3 linked regions of the Homo sapiens genome follow. The protein of the gene in region 1 interacts with the protein of each later gene in a biochemical or structural test. Each region holds a gene or a part of one and is shown in the gene's direction. Other genes may lie near its edges. The genes, in order: NUFIP1, GEMIN2 and FMR1.

Evidence for each region.
Region 2: the proteins of NUFIP1 (region 1) and GEMIN2 form a complex in vitro, tested with the Homo sapiens proteins (one study listed by BioGRID).
Region 3: the proteins of NUFIP1 (region 1) and FMR1 form a complex in vitro, tested with the Homo sapiens proteins (one study listed by BioGRID).

The regions. Positions count from the first base shown.
Region 1 is NC_000013.11:44,947,863-44,951,615, reverse strand, and holds part of NUFIP1 (FMR1-interacting protein NUFIP1), read left to right. Parts: intron 1-1,777; coding exon 1,778-1,894; intron 1,895-3,753. UniProt on the Homo sapiens protein: Binds RNA.
Region 2 is NC_000014.9:39,124,200-39,127,952, forward strand, and holds part of GEMIN2 (gem-associated protein 2), read left to right. Parts: intron 1-792; coding exon 793-837; intron 838-3,753. UniProt on the Homo sapiens protein: The SMN complex catalyzes the assembly of small nuclear ribonucleoproteins (snRNPs), the building blocks of the spliceosome, and thereby plays an important role in the splicing of cellular pre-mRNAs.
Region 3 is NC_000023.11:147,935,813-147,939,565, forward strand, and holds part of FMR1 (fragile X messenger ribonucleoprotein 1), read left to right. Parts: intron 1-691; coding exon 692-801; intron 802-1,653; coding exon 1,654-1,788; intron 1,789-2,286; coding exon 2,287-2,349; intron 2,350-3,753.

The DNA.
Region 1 (3,753 bases):
TTTACTATAAAAGGGAGGAAAGAAATGGAGCTATAGCTGGGAGACATTATTAGCATTATTGTGGACCATAAAGACACTTTGATAGGATGGCTTCATTTTAAGAAGACTTTGTCTGTGGGAAGCATTCTAGCTCACTGGTAACAATTTGGATTTGGAGTCAGATAGCCAGGCTTTAAATTTGACCCAACTGATTTATAGTTATCTTAAGGAAAGGTTACTCAAATTCTCTGGATTTTTGTTTCATCCCTCATCACATACCTCATAAGGATTAGGTCAGATCATGCTTTTGAAGAGCATAATATTCAACTATTACTGTACTTTTTGTTACCTCTCTTTGAGTCTTGGAAATAAATGCTGCAGTTTTTTCTTTCATCATTCAGCCAATGAATGGGAAGTCTCCATACTAACACTGTGGTGGATTTCTGCTTAATCTACTAGTAATTCACATAAACTTCATACTTTCCTTTCCCTTTATTAATCAAGGAGTAAAGGTAACTTAGCTTAAAATTGACAAGGAGTACTTTTATAGGTGTGATGGTGTGTAGTGAGGAGAGAGGATTTAGCTCCATCCAGCAGAAGGTGGCAGTTGAACATTCACATAGAAAGATATTCCCATTTCCTACTGGCATGCTTTGGTTTCCCCTAGACTGACTTGGTGAACATTAAATGCTTAGTCTTGAAACATTTTATATTGGTTTTAGGTTGAGTTGGTTAATTAAATAGACAAATTACTTATTGTCTTCAGTGAGGCCTTATTTTTATTGGTTGTCTAGAATAGAGTTACTAGATTGTTAGAGCTGCCAAAAAGAAATGTAATAGGTGGTGTCCTGGGGCTACAACTAGGCTTGCTGGGCCTGGATCAAACACTTTATATTTGGCAGGCACTTTAGTATTATGCTTGGTAAATTCTCATGGTTGCCTTGTTTATTTAAGTTCTTAGAAGTTTTAAATAATAAAAACTTTGAGTGGGCTGGTCACAGTGGCTCACACCTGTAATCCCAGCACTTTGGGAGGCCAAGGCAAGCTGATCAACTTGAGGCCAGGAGTTTGAGACCAGCCTGGCCAACATGGTGAATCCGCATCTCTACTAAAAATACAAAAAATTAGCTGGGCATAGTGGCACACGCCTGTGATCCCAGCTACTCAGGAGGCTCAGGTAAGATAATTGCTTGGGCCTGGCAGGCAGAGGTTGTGGTGAGCCGAGATTATGCCACTGCACTTCAGCCTGTGTGACAGAGCAAGACTCTGTCTCTAAAAAAACTTTGGGTGGATTAATTCCAGCATTACTGTTTGACTAAGCCTATAGAATGCTTTGAATATTATTTGGATCCCCAAAAACAGTCTTAAAAACAGTTAAAAGCATAGGTATTTTAATACTTCATTTATTTCTAAACCTAATTTTCAGAGGCAGTGATCCCAATCCAGTGAAGTTAAATAAAGTTTGGGTCTTCCTACTACCTGTAAATGAACAGCAAAGACTATGTAATTAAGTTAATTTAGAGTATGCTCAGATTGTATAACCTGTGAAGCATGCTAAGTAACTGAGCTCTATATAGCTTCCTTTTCCCTCACTGTCTCCTCTGGGGCAAATGGTTTCTTGGCCCATGAAGATGTCTAAACCAAGGGGAAGTGTTTCTGGCCCCCTAGAATTAGTCTTTTGGAAAGATTAAGGAAATGATCAGAAATTACTTAATTTTCACTAACAAATGAGGGAATGGGGGATGGACAGCTTTTTTATGGTGGTAGATGTTTTGAATCTGACTTCTTTTCCCTTCAGAGTCTGATAAGGAGGAGAAACCACAACATTCTGTGATACCCAAGGAAGTGACACCAGCCCTATGCTCACTAATGAGTAGCTATGGCAGTCTTTCAGGGTCAGAGAGTGAGCCAGAAGGTAAGTCATGGTGTGTGTTGTTACAGGGTTTTGTTTTGTTGCTTTTTGCCTTTTGTGCATGCTGCGCATTAATAACATCCAGGATGTGCATCCTTTATTTGGTTTTCAAATTCCTTTTCCATTTGAATCAGAAGTAAAGTTAACATGGGTTAAAGGAACTCTGGAGTAATAAAGAAATGTGTTGCTACTCTGGGAATAAAAAGGCAAAAAAATACAATATAGGCCGGGCGCGGTGGCTCACGCCTGTAATCCCAGCACTTTGGGAGGCCGAGGCGGGCGGATCACGAGGTCAGGAGATCGAGACCATCCCGGCTAAAACGGTGAAACCCCGTCTCTACTAAAAATACAAAAAATTAGCCGGGCGTAGTGGCGGGCGCCTGTAGTCCCAGCTACTTGGGAGGCTGAGGCAGGAGAATGGCGTGAACCCGGGAGGCGGAGCTTGCAGTGAGCCGAGATCCCGCCACTGCACTCCAGCCTGGGCGACAGAGCGAGACTCCGTCTCAAAAAAAAAAAAAAAAAAAATACAATATAATGAAAGAATAGGAAGGAAAAGAAAATATCCACTAACAGAACTGAAGAAAATTCTAAACGAAATGGCAAAAAGAAAATTCATTTTTTTCTCTCTGCTCTGAAGAACCCTTGTTATAACGTGTTTATAGCATCTTTGGTAGATGGAGAGAGATCTTTTATGACAAAGAGTGTGATACAATTTTTTTAATGCATATAGGGCATTGTTCTTCCTAGAGCATATTTACATAAATTATCTCATTTGGAAAACACAACAACCTTATACTTGTGTCTGCATTAGCTTGTGCATTTTAAAGGTCGGAAGAAATTGAATCTTTTCAAGAGTCTTTCTGAGAAGTCAGTAACTTTCAGAATACATGTCTTACCTTTAAAGATGATGTTACGGATGGTAACGTGTGAGGCTTCATTGTGAAATTTAATTGTGATAAACCAGTTTAATTTCCTTCAGCATCTCTTTCAGGGCTACCTGAAAGAGCCATGAGTAGGCTCTTGATCTGATGCAGTGTAGCAGTTTTTAATCCAAGGTTTATATCAATAATCCAGCATATGTTTAATGAATAAATCTATGTTCCACTGTTGTGGACACCTGGCTCTGTGTGGTCATTTTATTTAGACTTTACCAGCCGTGAGAAAATTCATGTCTATGTCTCAGGACAAGATGTGTAATCAAAGTAGGAGCTGTGCTGAGAATAAGAATACAGGTCTAAAAGTGTTTATATAGAATGAAGAGAAGATTCAAATGTAATTGGATGGGCCAGGCACGGTGGCTCACATCTGTAATCCCAACACTTTGGGAGGCTGAGGAGGGTGGATCACCTGAGGTCAGGAGTTCGAGAGCAGCCTGGCCAACATGGTGAAACCCCATCTCTACAAAAAATACAAAAGTTAGCCGGGCATGGCAGCACGTGCCTGTAGTCCCAGTACCCAGGAGGCTGAGGCAGGAGAATTGCTTGAACCCAAGAGGCAGAGGTTGCAGTGAGGTGAGATTGTGCCACTGTACTCCAGCCCGGGTGACAGTGAGACTCTGGCTCAAAAAAAAAAAAAAAAAAAAAGGAAATGTAGTTTGATGGAGATGGCAGCACTTTTAATGTTGACTAGGCTAGAGATAATCAATGTTTATGTATTTGGAAGATGTTGAATAAGGAGCCGTTAGGCTTTAATATGAAAAATGGTGTTTACATGTATCTGTAACATGGGAAGTTTTTTCTTTTTTAAGTGGGCCATGGCTTACTATGGTAGCTTCTTAATAGCTACTTGAATTTTGAAATATAAGCTACTTTGGCTTTATCACAGTATTCCTTAACAGATGGTTGCCTATTTTAATTTTAAGA
Region 2 (3,753 bases), on another chromosome or scaffold:
TAATTAGCAATCACAGCCTCAGACTCCAAAGTAGACTTTTAAAAATTGAATCAAATTAGGTTTTAAAAATGTCATTCTAATTCAAGTGTCCTTAATTCTTGAAAATATTAGCTTTAGCTGAAGATTTTGAAATGGTGTATACAACATATTAATGTCATCTTATCAATGTTACAGTTTTATTGGATATACTTAATAAGTTAGTTTTTTCAAGTACTATCATGTAAAAAATTTTTAGTCTTTAACATTTTACTTACTAAAATCATACTTTATTTAAAAATTTACAAATTCAGACCAGGTGAGGTGGCTCATGCCTGTAATCACAGCACTTTGGGAGGCTCTGGCAGGTAGATCACTTGAGCTCAGGAGTTCCAGACCAACCTGGGCAACATGGCAAAACCTCATCTCTACCAAAAATACAAAAAAATTAGCTGGGCGTGTTGACATGCACCTGTGGTCCTAGCTACTCGTGAGGCTGAGGTGGGAGCATCACCTGAGCCCAGGAAGCAGAGGTTGCAGTGAGCCAAGATCGCGCCACTACACTCCAGCCTGGGTGACAGAGTGAGACCCCATCTAAAAAAAAAATTACATATTCAAAATTTAAGGCGTTATTTTCTTCCGCATTACAAACATAGTAGTTTCCGGAATGTCTCATTGTTATGGACAATGAAAGAATTTTCTTTTATTTGTTCTTTGTTTCTAAACAACAGTGTGGCAAGAAATTCACCAGTTTGAAAAAAAAAAATGAAGCTTATAATACCATTTAGTAAAATTCAGTCTCATTTTTTCTTTCAGATTGGTTTTCCTCCCTTGCTTAGTATTGTTAGCAGAATGAATCAGGTAAAATTAATAATAGAGATATATGCATTCTTTTGTTTGCATTGTGTGTGAAAGTATTTGAATTGTTAATACATATACTGAATTCTTACAGTATGCAAGACTTTGTCCTAAGCTCTTTAATGGTTCTTATTTAATCCTTACTACAACCCTCTATGGAGAGTTATTATTGATAACTACTTTTTATAGATGAGGAAACAGCATTTGAGGTTAAGTAACTTGCAGGTGGTTTTTCAGCAAGTAAATGGCAGTACTGAGATTCAGTGCCAGGTAGATCTAACTCCAGAGCTCATGCTCTGTCTTAATCATGGTGCTAGAGTATTCATTTCTGTAGCTTTCAGTTATAAGTCTTAGATTCTGGGGTTTGAATTAAATACAAGGTCCCTGACTTACAATGGTTCAGTTTAGGATTCCTTTTTTCCCACCATGCCTGGCTAATTTTTGTATTTTCAGTAGAGAGAGGATTTTGTCATGTTGGCCACGTTGGTCTCGAACTCCTGGCCTCAACTGATCCACCCACCTTGGCCTCCCAAAGTGCTGGAATTACAGGCATGAGCCACCATGCCCAGCCATTTTAGGAATTTTCAACTTTACAATGTGTTTATCAGCACATAACCCCATTGCAAGTTCAGGGGCATCTGTACTAAGGTTAGATTGCTATTTCTAGTTCTAGATGTCCTATACATTCTATTAAGATTGAAATATGGGCCGGGCGCGGTGGCTTATGCCTGTAATCCCGGCACTTTGGGAGGTCAAGGCAGGTGGATCACAAGGTCAGGAGTTCGAGACCAGCCTGGCCAACATGGTAAAACCCCATCTCTACTAAAAATACAAAAATTAGCTGGATGTGGAGGTGTGCACTTGTAATCCCAGCTATTTGGGAGGCTGAGGCAGGAGAATCGCTTGAACCTGGGAGGCAGAGGTTGCAGTGAGCCGAGATCGTGCCATTGCACTCCAGCCTGGGCGACAGGGCGAGACTCTGTCTCAAAAAAAAAAAAAAGAAAGATTGAAATATATGATTTCTTGGATCAAAAGGGAAGAATTATGGAGTTTGGTTCTTCAGTTTTTTAGGAGTAAGGACTCTTATTCATTTAAAAAGCAAATAAAAATTTAATTTTATCTTCACATAGCATTGGGTACCTTTGGAAGCCTTTTTTTTTTTTTTTGGCAGGGTCTCATTCTCTTGCCCATGCTGGAGTACAGTGATGTGATCTTGGCTCACTGCAGTCTTGTACTTTGGGGCTCAGGCAATCCTCCCACCTCAGCCTCCTGGTAGCTGGGACCACAGGCATGTGCTACCATGCCTGGCTAATTTTGTTTATTTTTGGTAGAGACAAGGTCTCACTGTGTTGTCCAGGCTGGTCTGGAACTCCTGAGCTCAAGCGATCCTCCCACCTCAGCCTCCCAAAGTGCTGGGAATACAGGTGTGAACCACTGGGCCCAGCCAACAATTTTTTTTGTGGGTGATATTCTCTTGGAAATAATACACAAGCTGACAGTGTTACTTAATCATTTGCATTAAGATATTGTAGCAGTCATACTAAATTCCATCAGTGTCATTTTTGTTGTAACCATCAACTGTATTTGAATAAACCAGAGATTATTTTCAAGAGTTTGATAAATCCATCTGTATAGTTTAAGAACAGATTTTTCTCCACCTAAATTTTTATTCAGATTTGTACTTTGATTTAATTTGAATTTAGAAATAAACTGATGGTTTTTTTGTTTTGTTTTGTTTTGTTTTGTTTTTTGAGAGGGAGTCTCGCTCTGTCGCCAGGCTGGAGTGCAGTGGCACAATCTTGGCTCACTGCAACCTCCACCTCCCAGGTTCAAGCAATTCCCCTGCCTCAGCCTCCCTAGTAGCTAGGACTACAGGCGCACACCATCACACCCAGCTAATTTTTTGTATTTTAGCAGGGATGGGGTTTACCGTGTTGGCCAGGATGGTCTTTGTCTCCCGACCTTGTGATCCACCCGCCTCAGCCTCCCAAAGTGCTGGGATTATAGGCATGAGCCCACCGCGCCTGGCCAACTGATGGTATTTTTACAAATACATCTTTTTTTTTTTTTTTTTTTGAGACAGAGTTTCGCCTTTTGCCCAGGCTGTACTGAAGCGGCAGGATCTCAGCTCACTGCAACCTCTGCCTCCTGGGTTCAAGCAGTTCTCCTGTCTCAGCCTCCCGAGTAGCTAGGATTACAGACCCCGCCACCATGCCTGGCTAATTTTTGTATTTTTAGTAGAGACGGGGTTTTGCCGTGTTGGCCAGGCTGGTCTCAAACTCCTGACCTCAGGTGTGCCATTGTTTTTTTTTTTTTTTTTTTTTTTTGAGACAGAGTCTCACTCTGTTGCCCAGGCTGGAGTGCAGTGGCAAAATCCTGGCTCACTGCAACCTCTGCCTCCCAGGTTCAAGGGATTCCCCGGCCTCAGCCTCCCTAGTAGCTGGGACTGCATTCACTCACCACCATGCCCGGCTAATTTTTGTATTTTTAGTAGAGATGGGGTTTCACCATGTTGGCCTGGCTGGTCTCAAACTGACATCAAGTGATCCACCTGCCTCGGCCTCCCAAAGTGCTGAGATTACTGGCAAGAGCCACTGAGCCTGGCCACAAATACATTTTCTTTTAACCTTGTGAAGTCTTTCAAGTAGTTACAAACTAAATTATTAATAGTTACAAACTAAATCCTAGGATTTAAACCAAGGTGTTAGTTGATATTTGAAAGTGTGAAAATATTTGTTTTAAAAGCCTCACTGGGGCTAGGCGCGGTGCCTCACACCTGTGATCGCAGCACTTTGGGAGGCCGAGGAGGGCGGATCACCTGAGGTCGAGAGTTCGACCAGCCTGACCAACATGCAGAAACCCTGTCTCTACTAAAAATACAAAAATTAGCCGGACGTGGTGGTGCACGCATGTAATCTC
Region 3 (3,753 bases), on another chromosome or scaffold:
AAGTGGGTTTTCTTAATCTTTTACTCTGTGACTAATCCCTTCACTTTTTAATACATTGCTAAAGTTTGTAAGTAATGCACAGGAGTGATACTCTGTTAACACATTGACCTTGAAGAATTTGTATTCCTTTTGGATGTATGTATAGCTGCTTAAGCCACTTTCAGACTTAGATTATCTTTTATAAATGTGCCTTCCATACAGAATTCTGAAAATATTTACCATGGACAAAGAAGCAGATTTAAATCAGGTACAGACAAGAATTGAAAGTGTTGAATAAGTGAATATATTTCCCATTCTCTCTACTTTTTTCTTAATTCTTATAGAACTTTGCAGAAAGAATGATACATACCACAGTACCAGCAAGTTTAAAGCGTACCCTTTTGTGCAAAAATAAGAGGTTATCTTTGAACTGCCTTAAAAATCCAAAATTACCCTATCAGTTTGCAAGTATTAATCAACTCTGGTACCTGACCAAAGGAGTTTAAACAATGATGTCCTAATTAAACAGAAAACCAGATTAACCATCTTGTTGAAAAGAGTCTCTACTTTGGTTTTGAAATCTTACAATTCAATACATACACATACACATAAAAATATCTATCTATATGAATGTAATAGTTTACAGTAGGGCTGTGCTTACTGCTTTGAGGTATGTGTTTTTAAAACCAAACTTGATTTATTTATTTCTTAGGCAAAGTAATAGGAAAAAATGGAAAGCTGATTCAGGAGATTGTGGACAAGTCAGGAGTTGTGAGGGTGAGGATTGAGGCTGAAAATGAGAAAAATGTTCCACAAGAAGAGGTATGTTACAGTGCGAATATTTTGTGGCACATATAATAAAAGTAAAAGTTTTTTATGTGATATGTTGAGGACCTCTAATATGTGCATAAAGTGAATGCAAATATTCTGATTATCAAGCATGCCTGCTGTAATTAATGTTATAATTGTAGATAATGGCCCTTCTCTGTCCTCTAATGCAGTGAGTTTGGATTAGTCACTTTATTGAATTCTTTTTTCCTGATCTTTAAAATGGGTAGTTATAAATTTTTAAATATGAGACATACATCACTGGGTCGAGTGTTAATGGCAATTTAATAAAATAATATATATGTAAATGCTTCGTAAAGCACTTTGTAAATGTTAATGTTGCTGACAAAAGCAAAATTGGAACACAGGTTTTCTGGCTTTCATCTTTTCACTTTTTTAGTGTGGGGATTGTGTAGTATGTGTGTTTATTCTGTGTGCTTTAAATTTATTTCTGTGCTTAATATCTCTTCCCCATCCTCCTTACCTTTAAATTCTGTAACCCTTTTATCTTCATAAATATATGCTTTTTGTAGCAGCTTTTAAAGTATTTGCATGGGGTAGAGAGGTGAGGATGCACCTTTCTGTGCAATAGTACTCTTAAGATACTGTCTCATCAAAGAGCCGTAATTTTCACATATTGTCTAGCTTTCTTTTTGAAAGATTCTTTTAGCTAAAGTTAAATCTTTTTTTTCTGCGTACAATTTGTATTCGGTAATTTTATAAACCAAAACTGTTTATAATAACTTACATTTTTTAAAAATATGATGATTGATAACACTAATAGAGCTAAATAAAGTCTTAAATTGGTCCTTTTTTTCTCTTTTGTGTTTTCTGTTTTTTACCAAGGAAATTATGCCACCAAATTCCCTTCCTTCCAATAATTCAAGGGTTGGACCTAATGCCCCAGAAGAAAAAAAACATTTAGATATAAAGGAAAACAGCACCCATTTTTCTCAACCTAACAGTACAAAAGTCCAGAGGGTAAGAATTACTTGTCACTTTGAATTACAATACAAGTAATTTGTCTCAGATGTCACAATTGGTATTTTGGATGTTTTCTCTGGTTAGACTTGTAGGCTACTTATGTTCTATTTTTTTTCCAAATGTAATTGCCAGCTTATGAGATACTACAAATTAGTGTGATACATACTTTTCAATTTATTCACAGTAACAACTCTTATGCCATAAACACAAAATAATGGGGTTGCATTTAGTGGTCACATTTTTCTTTTGACAGTGGACTCTCTTTTTTCCATGCCTTCTCTCTTTAAATTTTGCAGGTATCGTAGCTCAAAATACACCTTCTGTTAGTTGCATTAGTTACTACTTGAACCATATTTTAGAAACTAATTTTCTCTGTTTGAACTAATCTGTTTAGAAATGGGTTTAAAAGTCCTGCAGTGAAAGTCCTGCGTTCAGGCTTCTGTGTATCGTTTGTTATAGTTAATGACATCCCTTGCATTCCTTATACTGCTTTAGGTGTTAGTGGCTTCATCAGTTGTAGCAGGGGAATCCCAGAAACCTGAACTCAAGGCTTGGCAGGTAGGAAAACATTCCTTGAGAAATACACTTTCAGTTTATATTTTAATGTTTATTCCCCTTGTTAACAAAGATTACAAATGATCCTCAGGATTAGGGACTGGAGGGAGGAGTGTTTGTGGGTATGTGGATCCATTGCCCTGGAGTTAAAGCTTAAACACCTTCATGCCGCTTGTAAGGCTTTTCCTAATTACTTGTCTAGTTATCATCTTTAAATTATCTTCTCCCTTGCACTCTAGAGAACCTTAAGCCATACTGAAGTACTTTGAGTTCTCTGAACATTCTCGTGCTTATTTTGCTTCTAGACATATGTACAGGTTTACTCTGCCTGGAATGCTTTTTCTCCTCCACATGTCACCTCATTTTGACCTTATTCCTTACAAAGCTTTCCTTGTGTACTTGCCGAAGATCCCCACCCCCTTGACTGGTTCAAGAGCCTTCCCCTTCTGTTTTGCAATGTGCTCACCCCTAGCATAGCACTTAAACATAGATGTTTATTTGTTGATCTCCTCAACCACATTGTAAGTTCTTTGAGGGCAGGGAGAGCTGGTGAGAACTGTTTATGGAAAAAAATGTTGTGGACTCATGGATTAAAAGCAAAGGTGCCATTTTACAAAGAGGACTATAACGGCAAGTGGATTGGATATGTCTCATTGCCGGGCAGCCCATTATTCCAGAACACAGAGTAACTTTTTTCTGGGGTCCGTACTAAAGGCCATCATTCCATTCTTGCCTTTCTTCATTTTAATTTACTATTCAGGTCTACTCGTGAAGTGCTTAAATTAGAGTGGCCCTTGGGGTACTCCAGCAGTTTAGACATGTTGCAAGAAAAGATATTCGTAAATAATTTGCTCCGAAGTCAATCTAACTAAATCTGTTACATAGGATTTTAAAGCTATTTTGGTGATATTTGACCCAGAGGGAAGGGTGTAGCATTCATTCCATCACATGGTATTTTGGGAAATAATACAGTTAAAGGCTTTTGTAACAAATAAAGCTTGTTGGAGAAAAACCCAACATGCAGAAATGAATTGCCAGTTATTAATTTGCACAATTGTTTCTAGGTTTCCCTATAACTTGTGACAAGAAGTAGTTGTTTTTTTTTTCCCTCTTAATATATATATATATGGGCTAGGAGTACAGACATTTAGCATATGCCTTTTAAAAATCTGTTCTTATGTTAAGTAGTGTCCATAGAGAGAAGTTCAAACTTTCCTTGTGATTCAGCCTTTTAAAATTTTCAGAGTACATTATTGAAATGTGTATGGGCTTGATAAAACTTAATGCTTGTCAATGTACCTATTTTTTTGTCTCACAGATTATTCAGTGCATTTTTATCCTGATGTTTTTGTTTGTATTTTGTGTGTACTCTATTTACTTGGTTAGCAGAAATGATTTACTTTTTAC